Homo sapiens: one gene and its partners. The protein of the gene in region 1 purifies or fractionates together with the protein of each later gene. This does not show direct contact. Each region holds a gene or a part of one and is shown in the gene's direction. Other genes may lie near its edges.

Region 1 (4,135 bases):
CGGAGTTGGGAGAATTCTGGATGTCTGGAGGAAGAACTGGGGGCAGGGCATGGAGTCTATGACTTCCAGAAAGGTGGGAATAGGACATCAGGCTGGGAGTGTAGGGCTGGAACTCCCCCAGCCTCCCCGTATCAGAACTCTTCCCAGTGACCCAAATGAGCCAATCTGTTTAAGCAGAGAGGCCCAGGGGCAGACTGGCTTCCCAAATCTGAGCTGGGGGTTGGGGAGACACAGAAGGTAGGGTCTGGATAAATGGGAGTTTCTCTTGATTCTAAGAAACTGGAAGGGACCTGGCAACCAGCCTCTGGGAGAGTCTGGGGGAGTCCTAGGCAAGTCTTGACAGAAACGATTGTCAGGCAGGATATGTCTGAGACCAACCCCCGGGGAAACTGAGAGAGATGAAAGAAGGCTGAGTACCTCAGATGAGGAATTATAAGGAGTAGCCTGAGCTGTAACATCCCCCATGTTGGCTGGTGCTGTAGCAGGAGGGATGGAAGTTACACTACAGGAAGGACTTCCTGCCAGGGAGGAATGTGCATGTCAGATGGAAGTGGATTATTTATTAGAGTTGGATTAGCCCTGGGATGTCTGTGCTCTTTAACCTGCAGTCAGCTGACCATGTCGAGTGGGCAGGAACCTACCCACTTTGTAGGCCACAGAGTTCTTGGCGCTGGATGCCTCATTAACCCCGCGTTATGAGGCTCCCCCTGGAGCCTTTAGGGAGGGGTGAGCAGCCACCTTTGGGGGTTGGGTGCCTCCAAAGTGTGGTCCAGTGAGCACGAGTTCAGATGGGAAATGTTCTGGGCTTTCTACTGGCCTGATTTCTGGGCTTCCTATTGGCCTGATGTCAAAGAGTGATGGAGATTAGACTGCAAGGGGGACTTCCTCAGCAAAATCATGGATAAGAGCCTAATACAATTATTTTATTTTATTTTTTTAAAGACTGTGGCCCAGCTGAGAGTGGGAGGTTTAAAGGTTAGACCACTGCAGGGACTTCCCAGTAGGTAGGAGTAGAGAGACCCCACCTTGTGGGTAAGTGAAAAGAAGAATATGTCATGTCCCCTATCTGGGAAATCTTAAGCAAGAGAAGAAACCACTGCTAGGCTGGTTATACTGGCTGTGACATGATGGAGAGGCAGGGGAATCGCTGAAATGACCTAGAAGGGCCTCTTAAACTTTCTGGTTGGACCGAGCAGAGGAGGGAGAGAGAGGTGTGTCTCTTGTGAGGTGGGTGAACGTCTTTTTATTCCCTCCCAATCCACCAACTTCCGCCCAAGCCAGGATCTGTCACAACTCGAGAGGTGGAAATTCCGGTTTCCCTGGCCTAGAGCTCCCAGTGCTGGCTTTGGCATGATGGGCACCTGGAGGGCCGCACTCCCGTTCCAGCCAGGCTGAGCCTTCTGTCCCCTGCCTCTGGGGCCTGGGAACCCCCCTTCTTCTTTCTCCTGAATGGCACCCCCGCCCTAGAATCCAGACACCGAGTTTCCCACTGTGGCTGGTTCAAGGGTATGTGAGGTGAGATGGGTGGCTTGGGGTGGGTGGTCTTGGGGAAGATTATGTAGAGGCCCAGGGAGGCAGACACAGGAGCAAGAGACAAGGGGGCCGGGGAGCTGCAGAGGCTGGGAGCCGGCCAGCCACCCCTGCCCAGGCAGCTCCCCGGGAAATGCTGATAACCAACCTGGTGGGATGGACCCTCATTGCCTCCCTGGAAGTATCAGGCCAGGCAGGCCTGAGCCTCAAAGACCCTGAACCCAGCTGGGGCTGGGGGAGAGGTTAGAGCAGGCAGACTCAAACCCAGTCTGCCTACCTGGGTCAGAGCTGAGTATGAGGCACAGGTGTCAACAGATCTGAAAGTGACAGGAGAGTAAGGTCTGAGGAATTTATATTTTGGGTACAGGAACCTGCTCCCCAAAATGTTCCCTGCCCAGAGCCAGGCAACGGTTTGGGCTTGGGCTATGAGAAGAGGGAAGGCAAAGGAGGAAAGACAGGAAAGACTTCCTGAGAGTAAGGCAAAAAAAGGCAAACCAGAGCTGTTGGTGAGAAGACAACAGAAGAAGCAGGATAGGGGAGACCTGGGCTCCTACCCATAGGGGACAGTGAGGTGACAGGCTGAGGCCTGGAAGGATGATGAAAGTGAGACCGTCTTAGGGCCCTTCCAGATAGGGAACCTTCTCTGCCCCAATGCCCCACCCCTGCCACCAATACACACGCTTCTGCTGCCTGGGGCTCTCCTATTGGTCCTCGGGGGGATGTGGTAAGAACTGCTCACCCAGAAAGTGCCCGGGTGCCTGTTTCCCCAGAGCTCCCTGGTGACAGTCTGTGGCTGAGCATGGCCCTCCCAGCCCTGGGCCTGGACCCCTGGAGCCTCCTGGGCCTTTTCCTCTTCCAACTGCTTCAGCTGCTGCTGCCGACGACGACCGCGGGGGGAGGCGGGCAGGGGCCCATGCCCAGGGTCAGATACTATGCAGGTAAGTGTCCGACAGCAGGAAGTGTGGGGATAGCAATAGAGAGCTGGAGGTGGGTGGAGGAAGGAGAGAGGAACAGAGGAGGGGAGGAAATGGATATGGAGAAACAGGGACACAGAGAGAGATGCCAGGGAGAAACAGAGGATCTCGGAGAAAGAGAGACACAGCCAGAAACAGAAGTCCAAAAGGAAAGAAAAGCCACTGGAGAGCAGATTGAGGAAAACAGGTGGCCACGGGGCCAGGGGCACGCTTCTTCCAGTTCTCCATGTTGGTAATTTTTCTTTCCTTCCTTAAATATCACTGTCACCAAGCTGGGCACCTCAAACTCCTAACTGCTTCACACTCCCAGGTACCCCAAAGTCAAGGCCCATGCTAGAAGACCATATGTGGACCCGGTGACCCGGAGCTCGCCAGGCCCATGCCAACCACATAGATCATGCTGGACCATACCATGTCCAGGACCATGGGATGGCTGGTTGGAGAATGGGCCCTGGAACCCACACACAAGCACAGCTTGGCTGGTTTCTTACTGAGACTGTGGAGGCTGCTGGCCCCCTCACCTCCAGGGAGAAGACTCAGGAAAGGATGTAGACACTGTAGGAGTTGTAGGTGACTGGGCATGGCTGTGTCTTTAGCATCTTTCTGGGGCAATTGGTAAAAGAAATGTATATTGCTCATTGATGCAGAGACCTCCTCTGTGTTGGATGCTGGGCGCACAAACACGGATAAGCCTCAGCCCCTGCCCTCAAGGTGTTCACAGTCACAAGGGGGAAGACATGAGCAATCAGACCATCAATACAGGGTGATCTGTTCAGCAACTGAGGGGTTTATGGCAGCTCTGGGGGAGGCCTGGCCTCCAGGAGATGCTCCTCCCTGAGGCTGGCCCTTCCATCCCGCAGCCACACCAGATTCCCCAACTTCTCCCCTCTGTACTGTGTAAGATTCCCTGAGCCTGCAAAGGTATCAATTAGCTAGTCAGCTTTCTAACTAATGCAACAGTGCAAGTGCTAATGAGAGAGGATCTGAGGAGCTCCTTCCTCCTTGCCGATGTGCCAGTGGGACAGGAAAATACACCCCCACCCACCCCACCATGCCAAGGTCATGGAGAGGACCTAGGTGAGCCTCCCACACCTGGCTCACCATCCCTGCCCAGGGGACATCCAGCCATGCCCACATGGATCTTTGAAGAAAAATGCTTCCTCTCTGTTCGTGGTGACTCTACTGGTGGGAATTTCCTTTAACAGAAGAGGAAGAAAGCAGGGGTGGTTGGGGGGATGGCGAGAGGGACTCTGACATACGCCCTCCTGTCTGCATATAGCTTTGCTGCTTGTGGCTGCCAACACTTTCCTGTTTGTCTGTCTGCCTGCTGCTCCTCATCCTAGTGAGGACCAAGGCGTCCTCCCCGACGGTAGCCCTCCCTGTCCCAGGCCTGGAAGAGCATCCACTGTGCCTCACTTTATTTCCCGTCCCCATTACCCTGCCTCTGGCTGCCTCTCCTCTCTACTGCGGGCTCAGCACACAACGCTCTTGTGTTGGGGTGGGGTGAAGGGAAGAACTGCTGGTGGAGGAGAGTGCATCTAGCTGCCAAGGCCTGGGGAGCACACTCAGGCAACCCTTCCCCTTCCCCCACTTTTATCTCAGGAGTCAGCTGCCTGCCCACCAAGTCCTCA
Region 2 (4,684 bases), on another chromosome or scaffold:
TTTTATAGCTACTGACATTAAAATGATTACTTGAACAAAACTGAAATGAGAACATGGCTGCTTTTATTTTAGAAACATTTGGCAAGGATTTTACTTTAATTATTCTACTTTCATGTTAACAAGCTTTTTAACTACTTGAAAGACACAGGGAAGGGAAAACATGACAATTGGAGTTCAATATGAGGATAATTTATTTCTAATAACCACTTATAGTCTAAAGAAAAAGCCCTGAATTCGCTTCTTATCAACAATTAAAAGAAAAGATAAATGTAGTTTTCCAAAGATTTATATGAGCACATCCCTTTGTAGAAACCAGATCATAGGTGGAAACTTGTACCTGATTTCCCTGTTGGTCTGTTATAACAATTTTTGTTTTTTAAGATTTTTTTGAGACAGGATCTTTTCTGTCACTCAGGCTGGAGTGAAGTAGGGTGATCACAGCTCACTGCAGCTTCAAATTTATGGAGTCAAGCTGTCTTCTCGCCTCTGCTTCCCGAATAATTGGGACAACAGATGCATACTACCACACCTGGTTATGTTATAACAGTTTTTAAGGCATGCACACCCCTTGCTAAAGATAGGATTAGTTATACTCTGAAAATGCACATACTTTAATTCATTAATAAATTCAAACTTATTTGAACCCTTAAATGATTAGCTTTAAGAATAGATGTGTAAGTTAAGTTAGCACAATGAATATGCTGAATTTTTTCCCTTTTAGGAATAATACATATTTCTGGAGGGCGTCTTGTGTGCCAAGATCTGTGGATAGGCATCAGTGTGACATAGTTCCTATACCAGCTTACAGTTTAGTTGGGAATATAAGAGGAAGATAAGTTCTTGTTTGGACTGAAATGCATTTAAAAGTTGTGGTTAATGTAATGGTAGTTGTTTGTTTATATTCTTACTGGAATTTCTTTGTTTATATTCTTACTGGAATTTCTTCTAGAAATTATAAATAATATTGTTCATGTTCTTTCTTTACTGATTATAATAATATAACCTGTAATTGTATAATGTATAAAATATTTGAATTAATTATGTTTGTTTTCTTCTGTTTAAGAGAGTACTGATTCAAAATTAATAATATGCTAATCTTTCCAGGAGATCATGAATGTGGCAGTTCTAGTCAAAGAACGCTTTCTGTTCAAGAGGCAGCTGCGTATTTAAAAGTAAGCAATGAAATTAGAATTTTAATAGCTATATTTTAAAAAATTATATAAATCATTGCTACTTGTAAGAATCATATGTTTGATTATTTTAATTGTACTGTTAAAAGCTTGGGCCTGCTGTTTGGTATAATATGAGCAGTTATGAGAAAGTAAAATTGTTCAACTTTTTTTTTTTTTTTTTTTTTGTGAGACACAGTTTCGCTCTTGTTCCCCAGGCTGGAGTGCAATGGCTGATCTCGACTCACTGCAACGTTCGCAACCGGGGTTCAAGCGATTCTCCTGCCTCAGCCTCGCGAGTAGCTGGAATTACAGGCACCCACCACCTCGCCCAGCTAATGTTTTTTGTATTTTTAGTAGAGATGGAGTTTCACTATGTTGGCCAGGCTGGTCTCAAACTCCTGGCCTCAAGTGATCTGCATGCCTTGGCCTCCCAAAGTGCTGGGATTATAGGCGTGAGCCACCTGTTCAATTTTTTTTAGTTTGTTTTAGAACATTCTCTATGAGAGAATGCATATTAATTTGGAAAGGGTACAAAGAAACATTGGTCATAGGGAAATTGAGATAGGTGAGTAGTAGCATGTAAGAGAGCAGGTAAATATCTAACCATTTATTTAAAATCTTCTGTCCCACATCAGTTTCTTCTCCAAATACTAAGAGAACTTGCTGTTGAATTTTCTAAACTACTGTAAATAATTTCTGGAAAATCTTAATGAAAGGTAGTAAAAGATTAAAGATGGATAAATGTCATTCTGATTTCTCAGAAGTGGAAAGTGGCATTTGAAAACCATACAGGAAAGCTTGTTGTCGGTCCAGTTCCATAAAGATAATTTCATAAAGATCTGAGTTCTTGCAAATGGAAACGTTGATCCCTGGAAGGTGGCTGGCATTTGAACGTGGACAAGTCATGCCATACAAATTTCATGCCTCCCATCCCCTTGTTAAAATTGTGGTAAAAAATATATAACGTGAAATCTGTTAACATATTTTTAAGTATACCGTACAACTATATGTGCATTCTTATACAGCAAATCTCTAGAACTTCTTCATCTTGTATGACTGAAACTCTATAGCCATTGCACAGCAGGCCCCCGTTTTCCTCTGCTCCATATCCCTGGCAACCACCATTTTACTTTCTTCCTCCATCAGTGTGATTAACAGATACCTCATATAAGTTGAATCCTGCAATTTTTGTCCTGTGACTGGCTTATTTCACCTAGCATAATATCTTCAAGTTTCATCCATATTGTAACATGACAGTACTTCCTTCATTTTTTAAGGCTGAGTAGAATTTCATTGTATGTATACATATATTTTCTTTATCCAGTCATGTTGATGGGCTTTTAGATTGTTTCCACCTCTTGGCTATTGTGAATAATTCATCAATGAACATGGCAATGCAAGTACTTCTTTGAGACTCTACTTTTAATTCTGTTAGACAAATACCTAGAAGTGGGATTGATAGATAATATGGTAGTTCAACTTTTTATTTTTTGAGGAACCTCCATACTGTTTTCATATTGACTGTACCATTTTACATTCTTTCCAATAGTATAGTAGGATTCCAGTTTCTGCCTATCCTTAACACTTATTTGCCTTATAGCTCACTGTGTTTTTATTTGTGTTTCCCTGATGATTACTGATGTTGAGCATCTTTTCATATACCATTTATATACATATACATCTGTGTGTATATATAGCATGTATACAGCATATATATAATACCTTATCTGTTGGCCATTTGTATATCTTCTTTGGAGAAGTGCTATTCAAGTTCTTTGCTGATTTTTAAGTTGGGTTATTTATTTTGTTATTGAATTGTGGGGGTTTCTTATGCATTTTGCATATTAACCCCTTGTCAGATATATGGTTTGCAAATATTTTCTCCCATTCTGTAGGTTACTTTTTCACTGTATTCACTGTTTTTTTTTACTGCACATATGCTTTTTAGTTTGATGTAGTCCCACTTTTCTGTTTTTGCTTTTGTTGCCTATGCTTTTGGTGTCATGTCCAAGAAATTATTGCCCATATCAACGTCAAGAAGCTTTTCTTCTATGTTTTCTTCAAGAAGTTATATAGTTTCAGGTCTTACATTTAAGTCTTTAATCCATTTGGAGTTGATTTTTGTGTACGGTATAAGATAAAGGTCCAGTTTGATTCTGTTGCATGTGGAAATCCAGTTTTCCTAGCACCATTTATTGAAGAGATTGTCATTTCTCCATTGTGTAGTCTGGCACCCTTGTAGAAGATTGTTGGATCATACATCAGTGGCTTTATTTCTGGTTCTCTATTTTGTTCCACTGGTCCATTTATGTCTATTATTATGCTAGTACTATACTGTTTTGATTACTATAGTTTTGTCATATGTTTTAAAGTCAGTGTGAGGCCTTTGTGGTTCCATATGGATATTAGGATTATGTCTTCTATTTCTGCAAAAAATGCTATTGGGATTTTGTATTGCTGTATTGCCTTCGGTGGTATAGTAATTTGAGTAATATTAAGTCTTCCAATTCACGAACATGAGATGTCTTTCTATTTATTTGTGTCTTTTATTTCATTCAGCTTTTTTTTTTTTTTTTGTAGTTTTCAGTGTATAAGTCTTTCACCTCCCTGGTTAAGTTTATTCCTAAGTATCTAAATCTTTCTAATGCTATTATAAATGGGATTATTTTCTTAACCTCCTTTTCAGATTGTTGTTAGTGTATAGAAATGTAACTGATTTTTGTATATTGATTTTATATCTTCCAACTTAGCTGAATTTGTTTATTCTAACAAGATTCTTTTTAGTAGAGATAGGGGCCTTGCTATGTTGCCCAGGCTGGTCTCAAACTCCTGGGCTCAAGTTATCCTCCTGCCTTGGCCTCCTAAAGCACGGATTACAAGCATGAGCCACCACACCCAGCCAAATAACAAGATTTTTTTGGTGAAATCTTTAGGGCTTTCTATGTATAAGATTATGTCACTTGCTAAGAGAGATAAATTTACTTCTTTCTGATTTGGATGTTTTTTATTTCTTTTTCTTATCTAATTGCTTTGGCTAGGATGTCTAGTGCTATGAGAGATAGAGATGGGAAAAATAGCCACCCTGGCCTTCTTCCTGATCTTAGAGGAAAATCTCTCTTTTTTTTTTTTTTTTTTCCTTGAGACAGAGTCTCACTCTGTCGCCCAGGCTGGAGTGCAGTGGTGTGATCTCTGCTCAATACAACCTCCACCTCCTGGGCTCAAGCGATTCACATGTCTCAGCTTCCTGAGTAGATGGGATTACAGGTGTGTGCCACCACACCTGGCTAATTTTTTTGTATTGTTAGTAGAGATGGGGTTTCACCATGTTGGCCAGGCTGGTCTCGAACTCCTGACCTCACGTGATCCACCCACCTCGGCCTCCCAAAGTGCTGGGATTATAAGTGTGAGCCACCATGCCTGGCCAGGAAAATCTTTCAGTTTGTCACCATTGAGTATGATATTAGCTAAGGGTTTCCATGTATGGCCTTTAATATGTTGAGATAATTTCCTTC
Region 3 (4,684 bases), on another chromosome or scaffold:
GGATGGACACCACATGGGGGCCGTGCGCAGCATGTGGCTGAGCTTGTATTTGGGATGTGACCCACAGCCCTATTGGCTCAGCATGCGAGAGAGCAGGGATGGTGCTCCCCAAGGAAGGACTGGTGGGCAGGACGGAGCAGCGCATGTCCACTAGGGTTGAAAGTGCTCTGCACGGCACCAGTTGCCTGGTACCCATTTCATAAACTGTGGCCACCATGATTGCTTCAGCTCAATAAGTGGTGGTTAGTATTAACAATTACTTTTTTCACTTATTAGTTGATTACTTATTTATTGAGGTGCTTTTGTATAAAAGATTCAAGCTTTCTGAAATCGAAGTTAAAATTTTGTAAACATATCCCACGCCATTGAACCTTTGTCAGTCATGTCAATAAATCACGCCCTTAGATTTAGGTTGAGCTCCCTCTACCCTATTGGCAACTTCTGCCCACTTGAACACCACTCCAAGGTCATCTGATGGCACATTAGTCATGGAGTTATTTATTTTTCCTCCAGATTATAAAGTCCTTGAGGGCATATGCTCTTGACTGGCTTAAGAGTACTGCATGCCTCTGTTTCCCATGAAAGCTAAAGCTAGGGTAGGCCCATTTGCTAAAATGAAGTATGGCTCAGTGTGGCGGTGCACACCTATAGTCCCAGCTGCTCAGGAGGCAAAGGTGGGAGGATCGCTTGAGCCCATGAGTTGGAAGCTGCAGTGAGCTATGATCGTACTGCTACACTCCAGCCTGGGTAACTGGGTGAGACCAAAACATGAAATGAAGTGTGAAAAATAAAGTATCTTATACCCTTTTAGACATGGAGAAGGTTGCTCTTGATTATACTAAATTCTGGATTTGCTTCATATGTATTTTTCAGGTAGCTTATTTAAAACTCGATGTACCTCTTGTGGAGTTGTGGCTGAGAATTACAAGAGTCCAATTTGTCCAGCTTTATCAGGAAAAGGGTAATTATACCACACTACAGAATAAGTATAGGTTGTTTTCTCCTTTAGGTTGAACATAAATGTGAGGAAATTGAACATTCATCAAAGATTCCCATGGATATTTATGAGAAATAAGACTAAATACAAGGCTGGGTGCAGTGGCTCATGCCTGTAATCCCAGCACTTTGGGGTTACAAGGTGGGGAGACTGCTTGAGTTCAGGAGTTCAAGACCAGCCTGGGCAACACAGTGAGAAACCTGTCCTACAAAAAAACAAAACAAAACAAAAAACCACAAAAATTAGCTGGGTGTGGTGGCACATGCCTGTAGTCCCAGCTACTAGGGAGGCTGAGGTGGGAGGGTTATTTGAGCCTGGGAAGTCAAGGCTGCAGTGAGCTGAGATCATGCCACTGCACTACAGCCTGGGTGACAGAGGGAGACCCTGTCTCAAAAAACAAACAAACAAACAAAAAAACTAAATATAGCCATGTGATAAAAGAAATATTTTGCTCACAACTTACAGTGTTAAGTGAAAACCACAGGGTCCTAAATTTGTACACACAATGAGTTCGTGTATCTGTATATAGTTAAAAGACCAGAAGAAAATACAACAAAATGTTAATAAGGAATATCAGGAGTGGAGGGATTATGGGTAATTTTTAATTTCTTCTTTATATCTTTCTGAATTTTCCTATATTTCTATTATGAACATGTACTATTATTACAATGAGGAAAAAATTTGAGGGTAGACACAATATTGAGAAAAATTCCACTCAGCCTTTTAAAAACAGTATAAATTGTATAAGGACTATATAATGTCATTGCAGAGGATACAAATGATGATGATGATGATGTATAAAGGTAAACATGAAGTTCCCCCTTGGCACACCCAGCCACTCCAGCCCTCCCCACACATGCATTCCCTCACTGGCAGTACAACCACTGGTGATTTTTTTTTTTCTGAGACAGGTTCTTGCTCTGTTTCCCAGGCTGGAGTACAGTGGCACAATCACACCTTACTGCAGCCTCCAACTCCTGGGCTCGAGCAATCCTCCTGCCTCAGCCTCCCAAGTAGCTAGGACTATAGGCACACATCACCACACTCAGCTAATTTTTGTATTTCTGGTAGAAATGCAGTCTTACTGTATTGCCGAGGGTTGTCTTGAACTTCTGGCCTCAAGCAGTCCTCCCACTTTGGCCTCACCAAATGCTGGGATTACAGGCATGAGCCACTGTGCCCAGCACCACTGGTAATTAATGGCTTGGGGTCCTTCCTTCTAATGCCCTTCCAAGTGAGCATGTATTAATTAGGAGTTTTATACCACATACTGCCAGGCAAATATACAAACTGAGTTATGTTGTTTCTTTATTTTTTATTATGCCAATAACAATCTTTCTTTTCTAATATTATTTACTTCAGTGCTCCAGAACCTGGAACTCAAGATGCCAGCATCCCAGTTGAGAAACTTCCCCGGTAGGTAGAAAACTCTGATTTGTACTGGTGTTCCAGGTTACCAAAACAAAAAAAAAAACAGACATCAAAACCTAAACATGTATTTGGCAAGACGCCTCTTAAATCAAATGCACAAATGTAAAAACCAGGCTTGATCTCTGAGACCAAAAGTGAAAGGACAAAGGATGAACCAAATTAGGATGAAAAGAATGATTTTTTTCCAACCTCTTTTTGCTTTGTGTTGTGGTAGGATCATTTGAGGTCGGGAAAGTTTCTGAAGCTGTCGTGCGACAGGTGGTTACCCAGTGTACAGAAAGCATAGGGGCTGACCTGTAACTGGTCAAATAACATCACTGGCATTATTAATCCAGGGTTAGGGAGGCAATGAAAGGACCTGAATAGGAGAGGTTACAGGACCAAACAGAATGTTCATAGATTAAAAAAAAAAAAAAAAAAAAGGAAGATTTTTATGCCAATTTTTCAAAACCAGGCATTAAAACAGCACTTCTATAACCTGTAATTGGATTAGAAGTTTTTTTGTTGTGTTTATTTTATTTTATTTTTTTTTGAGATGGAATCTCACTCTGTCACCCAGGCTGGAGTGCAATGGTACGATCTTGGCTCACTGCAACCTCCACCTCCTGGGTTGAAGTGATTCTTCTGCCTCAGCCTCCCGAGTAGCTGGGATTATAGGCGCCCGCCACCACGCCTGGCTATTTTTTGTGTTTTTAGCAGGGATGAGGTTTCGCCATGTTGGCCAGGCTGGTCTCGAGCTCTTGACCTCAGATGATCCACCCGCCTCAGCCTCCCAACATGCTGGGATTACAGGCGTGAACCACTGCACCCGGCTGGATTAGAGTGTTTTTAAGGTAAAATAAAACAGCACTTCTAAAAGTGTTTCATAGAACATTAATTTAATGTTACGTTGAGACATTACTTGAAAAAAACATGTTAGGCACTCAAATAAATATGGAAATGTTAGACTAAACAAAGTTAAAATATGTTTGCTTTACTGCAGGACTTTTTAGAGCATTTAATCCACATTGCTGCCTTCTAAAAAGTGGTTGTAATACGTATGTTAATGCTTTACTGGCTTATTTAACCACAGAACCTTTTAAATTTTCCTCATGAGGGTTTTAATTGCTAAATATTAAAAGTTTTCTTCTGAAGGAATAGGTAGACCTGGAGGATTCCTGTGATGCAGGAGATTACTATGATGAAAATGGTGTTTGGGGGATGGTTTTAGGAGGTGTATAGAAGGTAACCCTGAGGTAGGAGGGAGTGAAAGAAGAGAGATTTTTAGTAATGGACACAGGAAAGCTGGCTACATACTGGGCCAGAGAGACATGAACCTGAGAGAACATGAAAGGAGGTCATTGATGAAATTAGGGGATGCTTGGGGTGGGAGGCAAATCTGAGTCCAGTATGTCTCCCAGGTCTGGGTGGCTGTGAGCACAAATGTGAGCATAATGAATGAACTGGGAAAGCTTAGCTGAAACAATGTGTCAGCACATCAAGTACATACAGACAAGATAAAAAATAAGGACAGTTCTGCAGGGCGCGGTGGCTCATGCCTGTAATCCCAGCACTTTGGGAGGCCGAGGAGGGCAGATCACCTGAGGTCAGCAGTTTGAGACCAGCCCGGCGAATGTGGTGAAACATGTCTCTACTAAGAATACGAAAATTAGCTGGGTGTGGTCACACATGACTGTAGTCCCAGCTGCTCGGGAGGCTGAGGCAGAATTGCTTGAACCTGGGAGGCAGAGGTTGCAGTGAGCGGAGACCATGGCATTGCACTTCCGCCTGGGCAGCAGAGTGAGACTCCGTCTCAAAAAAAAAAAAAAAAAAAAAGACCATTAAACCTGATGCTTCATAAGCAAGGCAAGTTTATATAGGCTGGGAGGGAGGGTGTAGGGAATAAGAGGCATCAGAGGTGACCCATCTGGATGTACTAGGTTTGGGGCAGCCCCTGGCCTCCCTCCGATCCAGCTGGGCAGACTTGGCTCGGGGTTGGCTTAAGGATCCCATTCTTCCAGGTGTGAAGAGGCAGGCTGCGGGGGCTTGCTGCGACCTCACGTCGTGTGGTTTGGAGAAAACCTGGATCCTGCCATTCTGGAGGAGGTTGACAGAGAGCTCGCCCACTGTGATTTATGTCTAGTGGTGGGTCATGCCCTTCCCTAACCCCAGGACAGGACTGGAGTTTGTTATTTTTTCCTTCCCCCTCTCCTCTTTTCCTTCCTCCCTCCCTTGCTTCTTTCCTTCCCGCCTTCTCTCCTCCCTCCATTTCTTCCT
Region 4 (4,684 bases), on another chromosome or scaffold:
GCTGAGGCAGGAGAATGGCGTGAAACCTGGGAGGTGGAGCTTGCAGTGAGCCGAGATAGCGCCACTGCACTCCAGCCTGGGCGACAGAGTGAGACTCCGTCTCCAAAAAAAAAGAGAACCCTTTCTCCCTTTACCCTTTTCCCTTGAAGACCCTTATTTCAGAGGGGTCCTGCCCTATATGGCAGGAGGGTTGGGGGTGAGGAGTCTACACAGAGAGGCCGAGAAGAACCTGAATAGACAGGTCTTGCTGGGTTTGCCCCTTCAGTCTATTCCCAGTAGATCATACTTTGTCCACTCACATTTCTACATGGCTGTCCATTCTTCATCAAACCTAAGCATAAGAATAGTTTTCTCTGGGTCTTTCATTTCTTTTCCTTTTTTTTTTTTTTTTTTTTTTTTTTGCAGTAGGGTCTTGCTCTGTTGCCCAGGCTGGAGTGCAGTGACACGACCTCAGCTCACTGCAGCCTCAACCTCCCAGGCTCAAGCAATCCTCCCACCTTAGCCTCCCAGGTAGCTGGAACTACAGATGTGTGCCACCATGCCTGGCTAATTTTTTATATTTTTTTATAGAGATGGGGTCTTGCTATGTTGCCTAAGCTGGTCTCGACCACCTGGGCTCAAGCAATCCTCTTGTCTTGACTTCCCAAAATGCTGACATTACAGGTGTGAGCCACTGCACCTGGCCTGGGTCTTCATTTCTGAAGGCTCTGATCACTCAGGAAATTACAAGTGTTTTAGGAGCTCTGTGTAAGGAACCAGACAAAGACCAACTATCTATTGGACAAAGACCATATATGTATTTCTCATCACATGCTGTGTTTTATGTTTCTCCTCCTCAGGCAACACAGTGCTTCTCCTCATACTGTGCATGCAGCACTCCTTCCCAGAGCCTGGCAGATTGTATCTTGACCTCATTCTGGCCATCTTGGCACTGGAACTCATCTGTTCCCTGATATGTCTCCTCATTTACACAGGTGAGAATTACAACGAGCCTGTTCTTATAGGAACTTCGAACTGCTTCCTTTCCTCCCAGTTTAAAGTATAGCCCATTAGCGACAAGGAAGTTCTCTGTGTATCTGAGTGGTGACCACATGCAGACTTCTTTAATTTCAAACCAACAGGAAGGTACAGCCACCACCAGTGAGACCCCATTCTTTTAAGATTGTGTCATTAATAAATTTTTGTTAATGCAAGTGAAACTTTTCCATTAAAACAAGACACAAACTTTTTGGGCTGGGAATGGTGGCTCAAGCCTGTAATCCCAGCTCTTTGGGAGGATGAGGCAGAAGGATCACTTGAGCTCTGGAATTCAAGACCAGCCTGGACAACATGATGAAACTCCATCTCTACAAAAAATACAAAAAATTAGCCAGGTATGGTGGTGCACAAATGTGGTCCCAGCCCCTCAGGAGGCTGACGTGGGAGGATCACTAGAGCCTGGGAGACAGAGGTTGCAGTGAGCCAAGATCACATGCCTGCACTCCAGCCTGGGTGACAGAGTAAGACCCTGTCTCCTAAAACAACAACAACAAAAACATCCACAAACTTTTGCTTCTCTGAAGGCAGCTGAAATGTCAGCTTGCATTTAAAATTAAAAATTAAGAAATAGGCCAGGCACAGTGGCTCATGTCTGTAATCCTAGCACTTTAGGAGGCTAGCACTTTAATAGAGATGGGGTTTCGTCATGTTGGCCAGGATGGTCTCTAACTCCTGACCTCAGGTGATCCGCCCGCCTTGGCCTCCCAAAGTGCTGGGATTACAGGCATGACCCACCGCACCCAGCCCCAAATTGTATATATTCATCTGCTTAATGAAGTTTTCATCCACATGTCCCACAGGCACCAACAAGATCAGAAGTGAACAGAACATAATTTTCTTCAAAATTTCCCTCCATCCTAACCGTCCTCTTCTAGCTCAGTTAACAATACCAGCCTGCATCCACTTGATAAATCAGAATCCTAGAAACGTAGGAGTCATCTACCTTCTTCCTTCTACCTCACTCCCCAAGAACTGGATAGGATTGGTGATCAGTCAGTCATCAGTCTTATTCAGTCTACCTGTCTTTCAGCTCTGTCTCTTTTCTTTGGTCCCTGCCACTGCCTTGGTTAGGTACTCATCATCTCTTGCATGGCTACATCCAGGAGACACATAACAGGTCTCTTTCCCTCTGTCCACTGATTCATATTTCTTATTCCTGCCAACATGATCTTGTTTATACTTAACTCTGATTGTTAACAGCTTCCCTGCCCAGAGTTTTCTAATAGCTGAAGGAAAAAAAATCTAACGTTTTCATGTGGCATAAAAGGCATTTTCTTTATTTTTTTTTTGAGTTGGAGTTTCACTCTCGTCACCCAGGCTGGAGTGCAATGGCGTGATCTCAGCTTACTGCAACCTCCGCCTCCTGGGTTTAAGCGATTCTCCTGCCTCAGCCTCCTGAGTGGCTGGGATTATAGGCGCCTACCACCACACCCAGCTAATTTTTGTGTTTTTAGTAAAGACAGCATCTCATCATGTTCGCCAGGCTGGTCTCAAACTCCGGATGTCAGGTCATCTATCCGCCTCGGCCTCCCAAAGTGCTGGGATTACAGACATGAGCCACCATGCCCAGCCTGAAAGGTTCTCCTTGAATGGCCTCTACCTAGCCTGCTCTTCAGGGATGATGGTGAGATCCTTTCAAAGACTGCCAGTTGCTCTGAGGATAAAATCTAAATGTCTTAGGCCGGGCCTGGTGACTCACGCCTGTAATCCCAGCACTTTGGGAGGCCTCAGCGGGTGGATCACTTGAGGCCAGGAGTTTGAGAACAGCCTGGCCAACATGGTGAAACACCGTCTCTACTGAAAATACAAAAAAAATTAGCTGGGTGTGGTGGTGCACGCCTGTAATCCCAGTCGGGAGGCTGAGGTGGGAGAATTGCTTGAACCTAGGAGGCAGAGACAGAGGTTGCAGTGAGCCAAGGTTGTGCCACTGCACTCCAGCCTGAGCGACAGAGCAAGACTCCGTCTCAAAAAAAAAAAAAAAAAAAGTGTAAATGCCTTGCATGACACACCAGCCACTCCTGATGCATTCTCTGCCTATCTTCCCAACCCACCCCTTGTCCATACACCCTCACACCCATACATACGTGTAGCTTCTCAAGACCATAGCATTTGTTCAGACTCCTCCTGCACCTGAAGCACCCTTCTTTATTCTCCTAGTCTGTGTGATTAATTCCTGGGCTCAAACTCTATCCTCTTTTCCCCTCTCTGATACCTCCTGTTGAGTTAGGCACTGCTTTCCAGGCCAAAAAGCAGCTTGACAACTCCTTGTGCAAGCCTCTTGCACAAGCTTCTATTGAAGGTACTTTCCATACTGTCTTAGAATGTAGGATTATTATCTGTATTTTCCCCTGGACCAGAGGAAGTCATGATTTCTGAATTAGATGGCTGGCTGGTTGCTCAACTTCTCTGGGCTTCACTGCGGGGTAATAGGAGCATCCACTTCATGCAGGTGTTTATGAGAACTGAATGAGGGCATCCATGTAAAACATTTAAACTGTGCCTCATGTGTTCTAAGTGCACAATAAATGTCAGCTATTATTGCTATTTCAATACTAATGTAATCCCTATATTCCCAGGGCTTAGAACAGGCCTGGCACATAGTAGAATTTGAAATACTCAAGGACGTTAATAAGAACGGCAAATTAGCATAATTTGAAAAAATGAAACTAGACTTGTCTTTCAGAATTCGATCTAATAATGACTTTATTATTTTAGTGAAAATCCGGAGATTTAATAAAGCTAAACCAGAGCCTGATATACTTGAAGAAGAAAAAATCTATGCTTACCCCAGCAATATTACCTCGGAGACTGGATTCAGGTAAGATTTAGGTGAGAATAAAATAATTGAGTTTTTTCCCCTAGAAAGCTAGAAACCATTCTGATGCTTGGAATTTATGATTGTGTATTTGTACTTTTACATTTGTTTGATTTGTTTATTTCCTTTCAGCTGTGGTGAAATCAAGTCTAAATCAGGATGTGTAAATGTATTAAATAGGCCATATATTTGATGCAAAAAATTAACCACTTAGCCAACCTATTTAACCTCTCAAGAGCTTTTGACATCATTAACTGGTTACTCCCTCCTTGAAGCACCTTTTTTTATAGGTGTCTTTTTTTTTTTTTTTTTTTTGAGATGGAGTTTTGCTCTTGTTGCCCAGGCTGGAGTGCAGTGGCATGATCTTGGCTCACCGTAGTCTCCACCTCCCAGTTTCAAGCGATTCTCCTGCCTCAGCCTCCCAGTAGCTGGGATTACAGGCATGCACCACCACGCTTGGCTAATTTTGTATTTTTAGTAGAGATGGGGTTTCTCCATGTTGGTCAGGCTGGTCTTGAACTCCTGACCTCAGGTGATCCGCCCGCCTCAGCCTCCCAAAGTGCTGGGATCACAGGCGTGAGCCACCTCGCCCGGCCTGTTATTTTCTTTTTAAGGGATAGAGTCTCTCTGTATTGCCCAGGCTGGCCTCAAACTCCTGGGCTCAAGCAATCCTCCCATTTCAGCCTCCCAAACAGCCAGCCCGGTCTGCCCACCCTTGTTTCTATCCAGTCTCTCCCTAAGTGACTTCCATGGTAATTAAAATATCATTCATATCTGTTGGAGATCTTGGGGCTAAAGTAGATGTAAAAAACTATACATGCCCAGCTAATT

Evidence for each region.
Region 2: the proteins of SEMA4A (region 1) and LEMD3 purify together in Homo sapiens (affinity purification with mass spectrometry; one large-scale study listed by BioGRID and IntAct). This does not show direct contact.
Region 3: the proteins of SEMA4A (region 1) and SIRT5 purify together in Homo sapiens (affinity purification with mass spectrometry; one large-scale study listed by BioGRID and IntAct). This does not show direct contact.
Region 4: the proteins of SEMA4A (region 1) and TMEM192 purify together in Homo sapiens (affinity purification with mass spectrometry; one large-scale study listed by BioGRID and IntAct). This does not show direct contact.

Annotation. Positions count from the first base shown.
Region 1 is NC_000001.11:156,152,250-156,156,384, forward strand, and holds the start of SEMA4A (semaphorin-4A isoform 1 precursor), read left to right. Parts: upstream 1-1,335; 5' UTR 1,336-1,515; intron 1,516-2,298; exon of another isoform or gene 2,299-2,300; 5' UTR 2,301-2,329; coding exon 2,330-2,468; intron 2,469-4,135. UniProt on the Homo sapiens protein: Cell surface receptor for PLXNB1, PLXNB2, PLXNB3 and PLXND1 that plays an important role in cell-cell signaling. Regulates glutamatergic and GABAergic synapse development.
Region 2 is NC_000012.12:65,217,448-65,222,131, forward strand, and holds part of LEMD3 (inner nuclear membrane protein Man1), read left to right. Parts: intron 1-1,104; coding exon 1,105-1,172; intron 1,173-4,684.
Region 3 is NC_000006.12:13,594,604-13,599,287, forward strand, and holds part of SIRT5 (NAD-dependent protein deacylase sirtuin-5, mitochondrial), read left to right. Parts: intron 1-873; coding exon 874-961; intron 962-2,359; coding exon 2,360-2,413; intron 2,414-3,124; exon of another isoform or gene 3,125-3,261; intron 3,262-4,426; exon of another isoform or gene 4,427-4,428; coding exon 4,429-4,552; exon of another isoform or gene 4,553-4,684. UniProt on the Homo sapiens protein: NAD-dependent lysine demalonylase, desuccinylase and deglutarylase that specifically removes malonyl, succinyl and glutaryl groups on target proteins.
Region 4 is NC_000004.12:165,084,758-165,089,441, reverse strand, and holds part of TMEM192 (transmembrane protein 192), read left to right. Parts: intron 1-839; coding exon 840-974; intron 975-3,753; coding exon 3,754-3,856; intron 3,857-4,684.